Regions from separate parts of the Homo sapiens genome. Here region 1 is linked to region 2. The links come from fine-mapping of genetic effects on gene expression. A gene starts in region 2. The other region holds a variant in brackets. All regions are shown on one strand. Distances are between the middles of the regions.

Region 1 (5,369 bases), 37 kb before region 2:
CATGCAGGGCAGAGGGAACAGGAGGCCCCACGGGGCCACTGGGACCCCTCCCTTGTCACTGCCAGTGGCCTCACAGGTCCATGTGACCCACCAAGAGAGGAAGGCCAGGCCCAGCCCTGAGGAGTGATTCATTCATTCAGTTTACACAGTCAGACTTTGTGCTGGACACTGTTTGTTGTTGTTGTTGTTTTGTTCTTTGAGACAGGGTCTCACTCTGTCACCCAGGCTGGAGTGCAATGGTGTGATCTTGGCTCCATGCAACCTCCGCCTCCCGAGTTCAAGTGATTCTCCTGCCTCAGCCTCCGGAGTAGCTGGTATTACAGGTGTGCACCACCACGCCTGGCTAATTTTTGTATTTTTAGTAGAGACGGGGTTTCACTATGTTGGCCAGGCTGGTCATGAACTCCTGGCTTCAGTGATCCTCCCACCTCACCTCCCAAAGTGTTGGGATTACGGACTTAAGCCACCGTGCCCGGCCTAGACACCATTTTTTATTTTATTTACTTATTTATTTATTATTATTATTATTATTATTATTTTGAGACAGAGTTTTGCTCTTGTCTCCCAGGCTGGAGTGCAATGGCGCGATCTCGGTTCACTGCAACATCCGCCTCCTGTGTCCAAGTCATTCTCCTGCCTCAGCCTCCTGAGTAGCTGGGATTACAGGCACCTACCACCACACCCAGCTAATTTTTTGTATTTTTAGTAGAGACAGGGTTTCACCATGATGATCAGGCTGGTCTTGAACTCCTGACCTCAAGTGATGCACCCGCCTCTGCCTCCCAAAGTGCTGGGATTATAGGCGTAAGCCACCACGCCAGGCCTATTATTATTATATTTTGAGACAGAGTCTGGCTCTGTCACGCAGGCTGGTACAATGGCTTGATCTTGGCTCACTGCAACCTCCGCTACCCAGGTTCAAGTGATTCTCCTGTCTCAGCCTCCCGAGTTGCTGGGATTACAAGCACGTGCCACTACGCCCAGCTAATTTTTGTATTGTTAGTAGAGATGGGGTTTCACCATGTTGGCCAGGCTGGTCTCGAACTCCTGATCTCAGGTGATCCACCCACCTTGGCCTCCCAAAATGCTGGGATTACAGGCGTGAGCCACTGTGCCCAGCCTTCAACACTATTTTTAACACTGGGTTCATGGCAGTGAAGAAGCCAGATGAGGCGCCCACCTGCAAGAGGGACAAAGGAATAACTACTGCAATGAATGAGATAGTTAAAATACACTGGGCATGGGAGTCCAAGGCGGGTGGATCATTTGAGGTCAGGAGTTCGAGACCAGCCTGGCCAACATGGTGAAACCCCGTCTACCAAAAATACAAAAATTAGCCGGGCGTGGTGGTGCACGCCTGTAATCCCCAGCTACTCGGTAGGCTGATGCAGGAGAATCGCTTGAACCAGGGATGCAGAAGCTGCAGTGAGCTGGGATCGCAGCACTGCACTCCAGCCTGGGTGACAGAGTGAGATTCTATCTAAAAAAAGAAAAGAAAAAGAAAAAAAAAAGAGGCCAGCTGCAGTGGTTCACGTCTGTCATCCCAGCACTTTAGGAGTCCAAGGCAGGCGGATCGCCTGAGTTCAGGAATTCGAGACCAGTCTGACCAACATGATGAAACTCCATCTCTACTAAAAATACAAAAATTAGCCGGGCATGGTGGCAGGCGCCTGTAATCCCAGCTACTCGGGAGGCTGAGGCAGGAGAATCACTTGAACCCAGGAGGCGTAGGTTGCAGTGAGCCAGGATAGTGCCATTGCACTCCAGTCTGGGCAACAGAGTGAGACTCTGTCTCAAAAATAAAATAAATAAAATAAAATAATAAAATAAAATAAAATATAAAATAAATAAATAAATTAATTAATTAAAATAAATAAAATAAAATAAAATATGCCTGTATCCTTGGATGGAGAAACCTGCTCCTAGAACTGTGTTCTACAGAGGTATGCAAATGCACACACATGCCCTGAGGCCAGCGGGCAGCAGAGCAGCAGAGACCACCTCAGGCCCAGCAGTCCAGGCCTGGCCACCGTGGTGGTGGCCCTTCATGTGCTGGGTGTGCTGCGCTTAACTACGGAGCGGATCCCCAAGGCTGCTCTGCAGGGCACTGGGAAGAATATCCCGGGGAGGAGCTAAGTGGAGATCACATTCCCATTTGCGTAAAAAAGTGGGGGAAGTGCATGAGGGGAGGGGGAAAGAATGCGGAGTGGTGCTGGCTGCACTTGCGTTTGCTCGCGTGCTGCCTGTGCCATCTCAGAGGCTCACACACTGGTGCTTGCCTTGGGAGAAC[G/A]GGGTCAGAGGTGAGACTTTGCCCTGCACTCTATTCCCTTTATTTTCTTTTTGAGACGGAGTCTCACTGTGTCACCCAGGCTGGAGTGCGGTGGTGCAAGCCCAGTTCACTGCAGCCTCCATCTCCCAGGTTCAAGCGATTCTCCTGCCTCAGCCTCCCGAGTAGCTGGGATTACAGGCGTCTGCCACCATGCCTGGCTAATTTTTGTATTTTTAGTAGAGACGGAGTTTCATCATATTGGTCAGACTGGTCTCGAACTCCTGAACTCAGGTGATCTGCCCGCCTCGGCCTCCTAAAGTGCTGGGATGACAGACGTGAACCACTGCACCCGGCCTCTTTTTTTGTTTGTTTTTCTTTTCTTTGTTTAGACAGAATCTCACTCTGTCACCCAGGCTGGAGTGCAGTGGTGTGATCCCAGCTCACTGCAGCTTCTGCATCCCTGGTTCAAGCAATTCTCCTGCCTCAGCCTACCGAGTAGCTGGGATTACAGGCGTGCACCACCATGCCCGGCTAATTTTTATATTTTTGGTAGACGGGGTTTCACCATGTTGCCCAGCCTGGTCTCAAACTTGTTGGCTCAACGGATCTGCCAGCCTTGGCCTCCGAAAGTGCTAAGATTATAGGCATGAGCCACTGCCTCTGGCCAACTCTGTTAATTGACACATAAATGTAGGGAGACTTCACGTACAAATCTGCCTTCACAGCTTCCTTGGAAAATCAGAAAGATCTGGCATTCACTCAGCCCATGTGCCCAGTACTTAGTAACACCTTCACACTCACCTGTCCCCACCCAGCTGCATAACATCAGACACATATCAGAACCCCAAGGATGTGGCCCGTGTCTTCTTCTCACAGTGACAGGGCCACCAGCAGCAATGAGGTGGCTCTAGCCTAAGGTCTCCTCTCTCCCAAGGTCACCTTGGCCCGTGTGTGACAGCTGACTGCATCTAGCAGGTGACCTTGCCCAGGTCTCACAAGGAAGTCTTTGAGGTTGATCTGTTATCTTCTGGAGCTCAGAGCTCTGTACAATCCACCCACCCCAGCAGCTTGTTTCTTGCAAACTGGAAAGAATGAAGCTTTCACAAGCTGCCTTTTTTTTTTTTTTTTTTTGAGACTGAGTTTCACTCTTGTTGCCCAGACTAGAGTACAATGGCGTGATCTCGGCTCGCCACAACCTCCACCTCCCAGGTTCAAGTGATTCTCCTGCCTCAGCCTCCTGAGTAGCTGGGATTACAGGCATGTGCCACCACACCCAGCTAATTTTGTATTTTTAGTAGAGATGGGATTTCTCCGTGTTGGTCAGGCTGGTCTCAAACTCCCGACCTCAGGTGATCTGCCTGCCTTGGCCTCCCAAAGTGCTGGGATTACAGGCGTGAGCCACTGAGCCCAGCCAAGCTGCCTCTTCTTAAAGGAATTTCCTCCTCTGCCAAGTAAGGAAATCCCTAATGCTGTATCTTGAACTTTGTCATGAGGCTCCGTGATGAAGGAGTGACGTCAAGAAGGGACAGGCCAAGAGAGGGAATGTGACTGTCCCTGGGCTCCCTAAGGTTCTCTGAGGGGAGGTGCAAGAGGCCAGGCAGGGGCCGGGTGCGGTGGCTCATGCCTGCAATCCCAGCACTTTGGGAGGCCGAGGCGGGCGGATCACCTAAGGTTGGGAGTTCGAGACCAGCCTGACCAACATGGAGAAACCCCGTCTCTAATAAAAATACAAAATTAGCCAGGCATGGTGGTGCATGCCTGTAATCTCAGCTACTCGGGAGGCTGAGGCAGGAGAATATCTTGAACCCAGGACGCAGAGGTTGCAGTGAGCCGAGATCATGCCATTGTACTCCAGCCTGGGCAACAAGATTGAAACTCCGTCTAAAAAAAAAGGCCAAGCAGGGATCCACAGGCAGGGTGGAAAGGGGCACAGAGGCAGGGGCCGCTCCGTTTATGTGACGCCATCCACATCGTTATGCAACACCACAGCTAAAGGTGCAGTACAGCCAACAGTGCTCCCACCCAGAGGGCCGGAGAACTTTCTCCAGTGGAGATGCAGTCCAAGGAACTGGCTCTTGCCCCAAGACCAGAGTCAGTCAGAGATCCAGGGCAGTGGGGCCCCATGGCTGGCTTGCTGTTGGTCAGCCAGAAGGGGTGCTTTCTACACCTGCTGTCTCCCCGACCTTTGTCAGGTAACGACAGATGTTTCCCCACACCACAAGTTTCCACACAGTGAAAATTACCAGTGGATGCATCCCCTCCGGTACACAAACCTGGCAGGGGCTGGAGACCAGAGGTGTGACCCAGGGAAACCACCTGGCAAAAGTGGCAACATCTGGCCAGGCGCGGTGGCTCACGGCACTTTGGGAGGCTGAGGGGGGCAGATCATCTGAGGTCAGGAGTTCAAGACCAGCCTGGCCAACATGGTAAAACCCTGTCTCTACTAAAAATACAAAAAATTAGTTTGGCGTGGTGGCGCATGCCTGTAGTCCCAGCTACTCAGAAAGCTGAGGCAGAATTGCTTGAATCCAAGAGGTGGAGGTTGCAGTGAGCCAAGACCACTCCACTGCACTCCAACTTGGGCGACAGAGAGAGATTCCGTCTCGGAAAAAAAACAAAAACAAAAACGTGGCAACATCTGAACCTCAGACAAGCACTTCCTGTGTGCCCTAGGCTTAAACTCTGTCCATAAACTTTAGACCATCTGTAAACCCACCACCAAGGAAGAGCAAATTACACAAACGTGGGACACAGTGCCCACAAGATCACAGATCCAAACAACTGTCTCAGAGGGTTTTGAGTGTTGTTTCACAGGCCTTAAGCCCAGGTCCACCCAGCCCGCATCCCCTCTGGTATATAAACCTGGCAGGGGCTGGGGACCGGAGGTGTGACCCAGGGAAGCCAGGTAAAGTGCACACTCTAGGATTTGAGACAGGATTTGTTTTCCTCTTGGGGGTAACTCAGCACAGAAGAGGCCACCTTTAGATTTAACCACGAATTTGTTCTGGGGTTTTCCAGCAGCATTTTATTATTTATTTATTTTTTGAGACGGAGTCTCACTCTGTCGCCCAGGCTGGAGTGCAGTGGCACGATCTTGGCT
Region 2 (5,369 bases):
CTCTCCTGCCTGTGACACTGTAGGGTTAGCTCTTTCCATTATTTGACTCAGCTGAAATGTCACTTTCCTGACCACCTCTCCAGACACTATCACATCACACAATTTCCTCCATAGCACTTACTGCTATCTGAAATTGTCTTATTTACTCCTTAACAGCCTTCTCTCCCTGACTTGAATGGAAGCTCCCGAAGGATACAGACTATGTCCATTTTGTTTGCTATCCACGATGGGACATAATAGGCCCTCAGTAAATATCTGTTGAATAAACAGACAAAAGAATTTTGGGAAGTCCATTTTAGGGCACCTCAAAGCCTGTCCTATGTTATCTAAACCATGCCAAGTGCTCTTGTATTCCACTAGACAGCAGCTGACATTTTATCTGATCACCATAGCCATTTATGAAGCACTCACTTTTTAACTGTCAGGGTCTGGAGAAGTTAGAACCGGGCAGCTGTTAACCCAGATTGTAGGTAGCCAACCGAGTGACTGCAAGCAGGGCTGAGCTGCAACAGCACCTTATTGCTGGCTACCACCAGCACACTGGGCCCCTTCGTTTATTACGACCCGGTAGGAGTGTTATTCTGGTGAGAAGTTTTACCCAGCAGTCTGGCCTGACTCAGAATCTCTCTTCTGGGAGTGCCTGGGGCAGCGTCATGGTAAATGAATTGACTCAGCACTGTTCCAGCTGAAACCAAAATCGAGTAAAAGGATTCATGGTCTCCGCTATTCTGCAAGAAGACCCCACTGTTTTAAACTCAAAAGGCAGCAGCTTGTGGTGGGTCACTTCAGTCAGATCCCCCACATTCAATTTCTTTTATTCCCACCCCAACCATCAGGCAAGTATGGCTCCTTGAGACCGCAGAGTAGCAACATTTATAAAGAATTCCCCTCACCCTATTTCCCATGGATCACCAATTCCTTCCCAACACTGCCGCTGCTGTGGCCTTAAATATGCCAATGATTGCTGTACTCAGGCTGGTGTCCCTGCAGCCCCACAGTGGGGAACACTGTGGCCCTGTTTGCTTCCTCCATCAGAGAGGTAACCCATTTTCACCCCATCTGAGAGAACCTCCTTGGCCAACTTCACTGCCAGGCACCTGAGGGTGCAGCCTCACCCAAGAGTTCCCATTTCATCTATTCACCTCCCTACTCCCATCAGCCAGTGGGGAACTTCTGAGCTGAACCCACATATCTGTCCCAATTATTAAAGGAGTCGATGAGAGTGAGCGTCTCCACAGAAGAGACACTTCTAGGATATGCTTCCCTCACTCAATTCAAAAAGAGGAGACTTTTCTCCTTTACAGGAAACATCTCCGGAACCCGACCTTTTCCACTCCCTCATTTCAGGGGCTTCCCTCAGTTGAATCCCCACTCCCAAAGAGACATCCTCGGGGCTCCCAATTCATCTGTTCTCCCTCATCCAATATCAGAGGCTTCCACCAACTGCCCCACTCGGACCTTGTCCCCTGAAACCTAACTTGAAGCAATCCATCTGTATCCTCGAACAGGAGACTGGTAATGATGGGGTCATTTCACTATCACCGCTATTAGGTCCCTCTGGCATCTGAATCCTTTTCCCTCCTCTCACTTATCATGCGGAGACCCCCTTCATTCTCCCCAAAAGCAGCTGCTCCAAGGCTCCTCCTTTCTAGTCAACATAGCTATTTCCTCAGCTAACCCCATCTCTAAAACTAACGCCGGAGCCGTTCCCTCAACCGATAGGGGATCCTCTCAAGTCACCCCCTCAGGATCCCGTTTCTTCCATCCAGCCTGAAGGGCTTCTCTGATGTCCCCTCCAGACATCCCAAGGCCCCTCTCAGCCGCACCCCTGGCACCCAGTATGGGACTTCCATCCGCTGTGGGGCGCCTCCTCTAGGGGACCTCTAGATCGCCCCTTAAGAGTCGCCAGCCCCGGTATCCTCAGGAGTGCCTCGGAGCTCGCTCCTCGCCCACTCCGGCTCCCCCAGACAGCACAGAGGGCCCTCACGCCTCCCGGGGGAGCCTCAGGGCCTCGCCGCGCCGCCCACAGGCCCCTCAGCCCCCCGCCCGTGCTTCCGGCCACCGCCTGCTCCTCCTCCCCCGGTCAGGCCGCGCCGGTGGCTGCCGCGGAGCCCAGCAGACAGAGGCGGCGCGGGGACCCTGGCTCCGCTGCAGGAGGCTTTGAGGGTCCCCGGCCCCCGGCCCAAGCCCATGCCCCCTCGGCCGGCCGGGCCCGGCGCCCCCGCTCACCCGAGCCCGTGGTGGCTGCCATCTTGCGTCGCTCTTGCTTGAAGGCCGGCCCCTTCTTCACCCCCCCCTTACCCGTCCCCCGGCCCTGATGCGCAGGCGCGCGCGCACGCACATACGCCGCCGCTGACGCCCGCCCCGGAGACCTGCACGACCCGTGGCCTGGAAGGCTCTTTTCCTTCCCTTTTAGAGAAAGGAAATATCTGCGTGCTCGAGGGCCCAGCAACCTGCAAGTCCCCACACATCGGGTGCGAGGGAGGTTGTGATGTGCTTAGTGAGAAGGGCAGGGGTGACTAGGCTTGGGAAGGCGCGATTGTGAAAGAAAAAGAAAATATAGCTTCAAACAAAAGCGCCGAATTCGCTTGGGGCTTTTTCCTGTCTAGTTCCTATCTAGATCCTCACCACATCTCCGCAAGGTCAGAATTAATGTGAAAAATGCAGCCGAGAGAGATCAAGCGATTTATCTAAACTCAGCTGTTAAGTGGCAGAGACAGGCAGAATTTTAACCTCCAGGTTCAAATTTTTTGAATCATCACCCTCCAGGTCAGATGATCTGGCTCCTAGGATTGATGCTCCCCGGCCAGAGAAGGCTTGGAGTGGGTGCAGCTAAATGATTTAGGGGCATTAAGGTGGCAGGGAAAGCATTTGCTAACCATCTACCCAATTCATTCATTCATTCATTCATTCATTCGTTCATTCATTCATTCAACCAAACAAACAAACATTAAGCACCTACTATGTACCAGACACTGTGCTAGGCGCTGGGGATGGATAGACATCTCTGAAGAAGCAAATCCCTGCTTTCAGGGACTTACATTCTAGTCGTAGACAGCAAGTAAATAAACAGGAAACTATAATTCTGATAGGGTAGAGATAAACCAAGACAAGAGCAGCAGAGGATGGTCAGGAAGGGCCTCCTAAGGTGGTCATATTTCAGCAGAGACCGTAACAATGAGGAGGTAGAGGGAACAGCTTGTGCAAAGGCCCTTGGGAAATATTTTTGCAAATAAATAAACCCAAGAAGGTACTCCTCCTTTATTATAAATTGTCTGAGAAGCCCTTATATGGATGTAGACACTGAGGCTGAGAGAGGTGAAGGGACTGGCTTAAGGTCACAGAGCAAAATACTGGCAGAAGGACCAGGACTCTAAACATAGAGGGACAAGGAAGCTGGAAGCCCTCACCCAGCACATCCAATTCATCACCTTTGTCTGATAGCAGTGCCTACTCTGCATCTCTCCACTCCGTTCACTTCTCCACTCAGGGCAAGCTGCCTTTATCTCCCACTTGGAAGACCCCAGCAGCTTCCATTCTCTCCCCTATGGCCCATTCTCCATATAGACCAACATCTGCTCAAAACACCCTCCAGCTAAAGCCTTCAGTGGCTCCCCATTCCCTCTGGATAAAATACAAACTTTACAAGTTGAGCGACCATAGAATTATCACCTAATGAGGACACACATCAGATTAAAAGGGGACTTATTATAATCTCACCAGGACAAGTGGAAACCAGGGCTCTCCAGGGCAAAGCAGGATGCCTGGACACCCTGTGCACCAGGCTCTGCACCCAGGGCAGGGACGAGGATGGGGTGGTCAGATTTAACGGGGCTTTCACTCAGGTCCTGACTCCGCACTTGCACAGCGCTGCAGGTGAGTGACTCCTTAAAATCTGCACCCTAGGGCAGGGCATGGTGGCTCACACCTGTAATCCCAGCACTTTGGGAGGCCGAGGTGGGCAGATCACCTGAGGTCAGGAGTTCCAGACCAGCCTGGTCAACATGGTGAAACCTCGTCTCTACTAAAAATACAAAAATTAGCGGGGCGTGGTAGCACACACCTGTAATCCCAGCTACTCGGGAGGCTGAGGCAGGAAAATCGAGCGAACCCGGGAGGCAGAGGTTGCAGTGAGCTGAGATTGCACCATTGCATTCCAGCCTGGGCAACAGAGAGAGATTCAGTCTCAAAAAAAAAAAAAAAATCTGCACCCTAGGTACCCCACTTGCCTCACCATAGCCTTGGCACAGCCTGCGCCTCTGAGACTTTCTGTACCTCTGCGGCGACACTGGCCCTTTGCAAGCCCCCTGGAACACATGCCCTCTCCCACTTCAGGGGCTTTGCCTGTGCTGTTCCCACTCTTCAGTTCTCAGATCCAGCACCATCCCCTCAGGGAAGCCTTCCTCGATTCCTCCAACCACATCAAATTCAGCTATAATTAGCTCTCAAAGTGCCAGCACTGGCTACAGGTGAAGCAACTTGACTTTTCGTGTATCACGTGATACAAGTTTGCTTTGGGGAGCACAGAAAATACTTGCCCTGGACTTGGGGTCACTGTAAAGCATCAGTAGCAAGTGGAAGCATTTGGGTTCCTAAGGTGGACTCACCTTTGCAGTGAAATTTTCTAGGTTCAAGTCTTCCTTCATCACTCAGTTTGCTTTGTGACTTCAGGTAAGACGCTTGAACCTCTCCTGGCATCAGTTTCCCCTTCTATGAGGATAGTAGTATCAACCTCATAGGATTGCTGTGGAGATAAAATGCTTTCCTAAAACCCCTTGGGCACAGGGAAGAGGAAGGGACACTAGAAGAGCTCATAATTACCAAGCCGTTACATCCAACTTTTAATCCTCACAACTCGATGCAGCAACTCCTGTGAATATCCCCATTTTTAGAGATGAGAAAACTGAGACTCAGAGCTAACAGGTGGAGAGGATGAGGATTAAAACACAAGCCTTTTATCTATGGTGCCCGTAAATGTTTACTCGCATGGATTCCTTGGCTCTTGTAGGAAACTTCTTGCAAGTAAAATTGACAATAATAATTCCCGTGCCGAGCTCATCGCAGGAAGAGGTTAGGCGGGACAGCCCGAGGCATGCTGGTTGTTGTAGTCTAGCGTTGGCGCAGTGCCTGATGGGAGTTGTAGTACGTCCCGCGCACACGCTCCCTCGAAGAGTTTCTGCCCCATTCCTGGACGTCACAGCCGGTCCCCAGAGCAGGATTCCTTCCGGCGCCTGCGCCTGATCACCGCTCTGCGCTTGAGCTGATAAACTCAGCTGATGGGATAAGAGTCTTGTTTTATCGGATTTTGGGGAAGATTAAAATGGTTAATAGAACTAGAGAATTTAGAAGAGGGCTTGGCACTAAGTGCA

The links. PIP is the estimated chance that this variant, and not a neighbour inherited with it, causes the effect.
Region 1: its variant is fine-mapped to the expression of UBE2V1 in whole blood (INTERVAL, PIP above 0.99).

Annotation. Positions count from the first base shown.
Region 1 is chr20:50,073,628-50,078,996 of GRCh38, forward strand. No RefSeq gene overlaps it. Among named protein-coding and RNA genes, the nearest start is that of TRERNA1, 35 kb to the left of the region's middle. RefSeq lists an enhancer at 1-448. The variant G/A (reference allele first, on the strand shown) is at 2,291.
Region 2 is chr20:50,110,878-50,116,246 of GRCh38, forward strand. UBE2V1 (ubiquitin conjugating enzyme E2 V1) reads right to left here and starts at 2,273. Exons shown (of 4, transcript NM_001032288.3): 1 at 2,230-2,273. The coding sequence starts at 2,251. The region is part of intron 5 of PEDS1-UBE2V1 (PEDS1-UBE2V1 readthrough); the gene reads right to left. RefSeq lists silencers at 1,801-2,340, 5,044-5,200 and enhancers at 2,511-2,620, 2,625-3,192.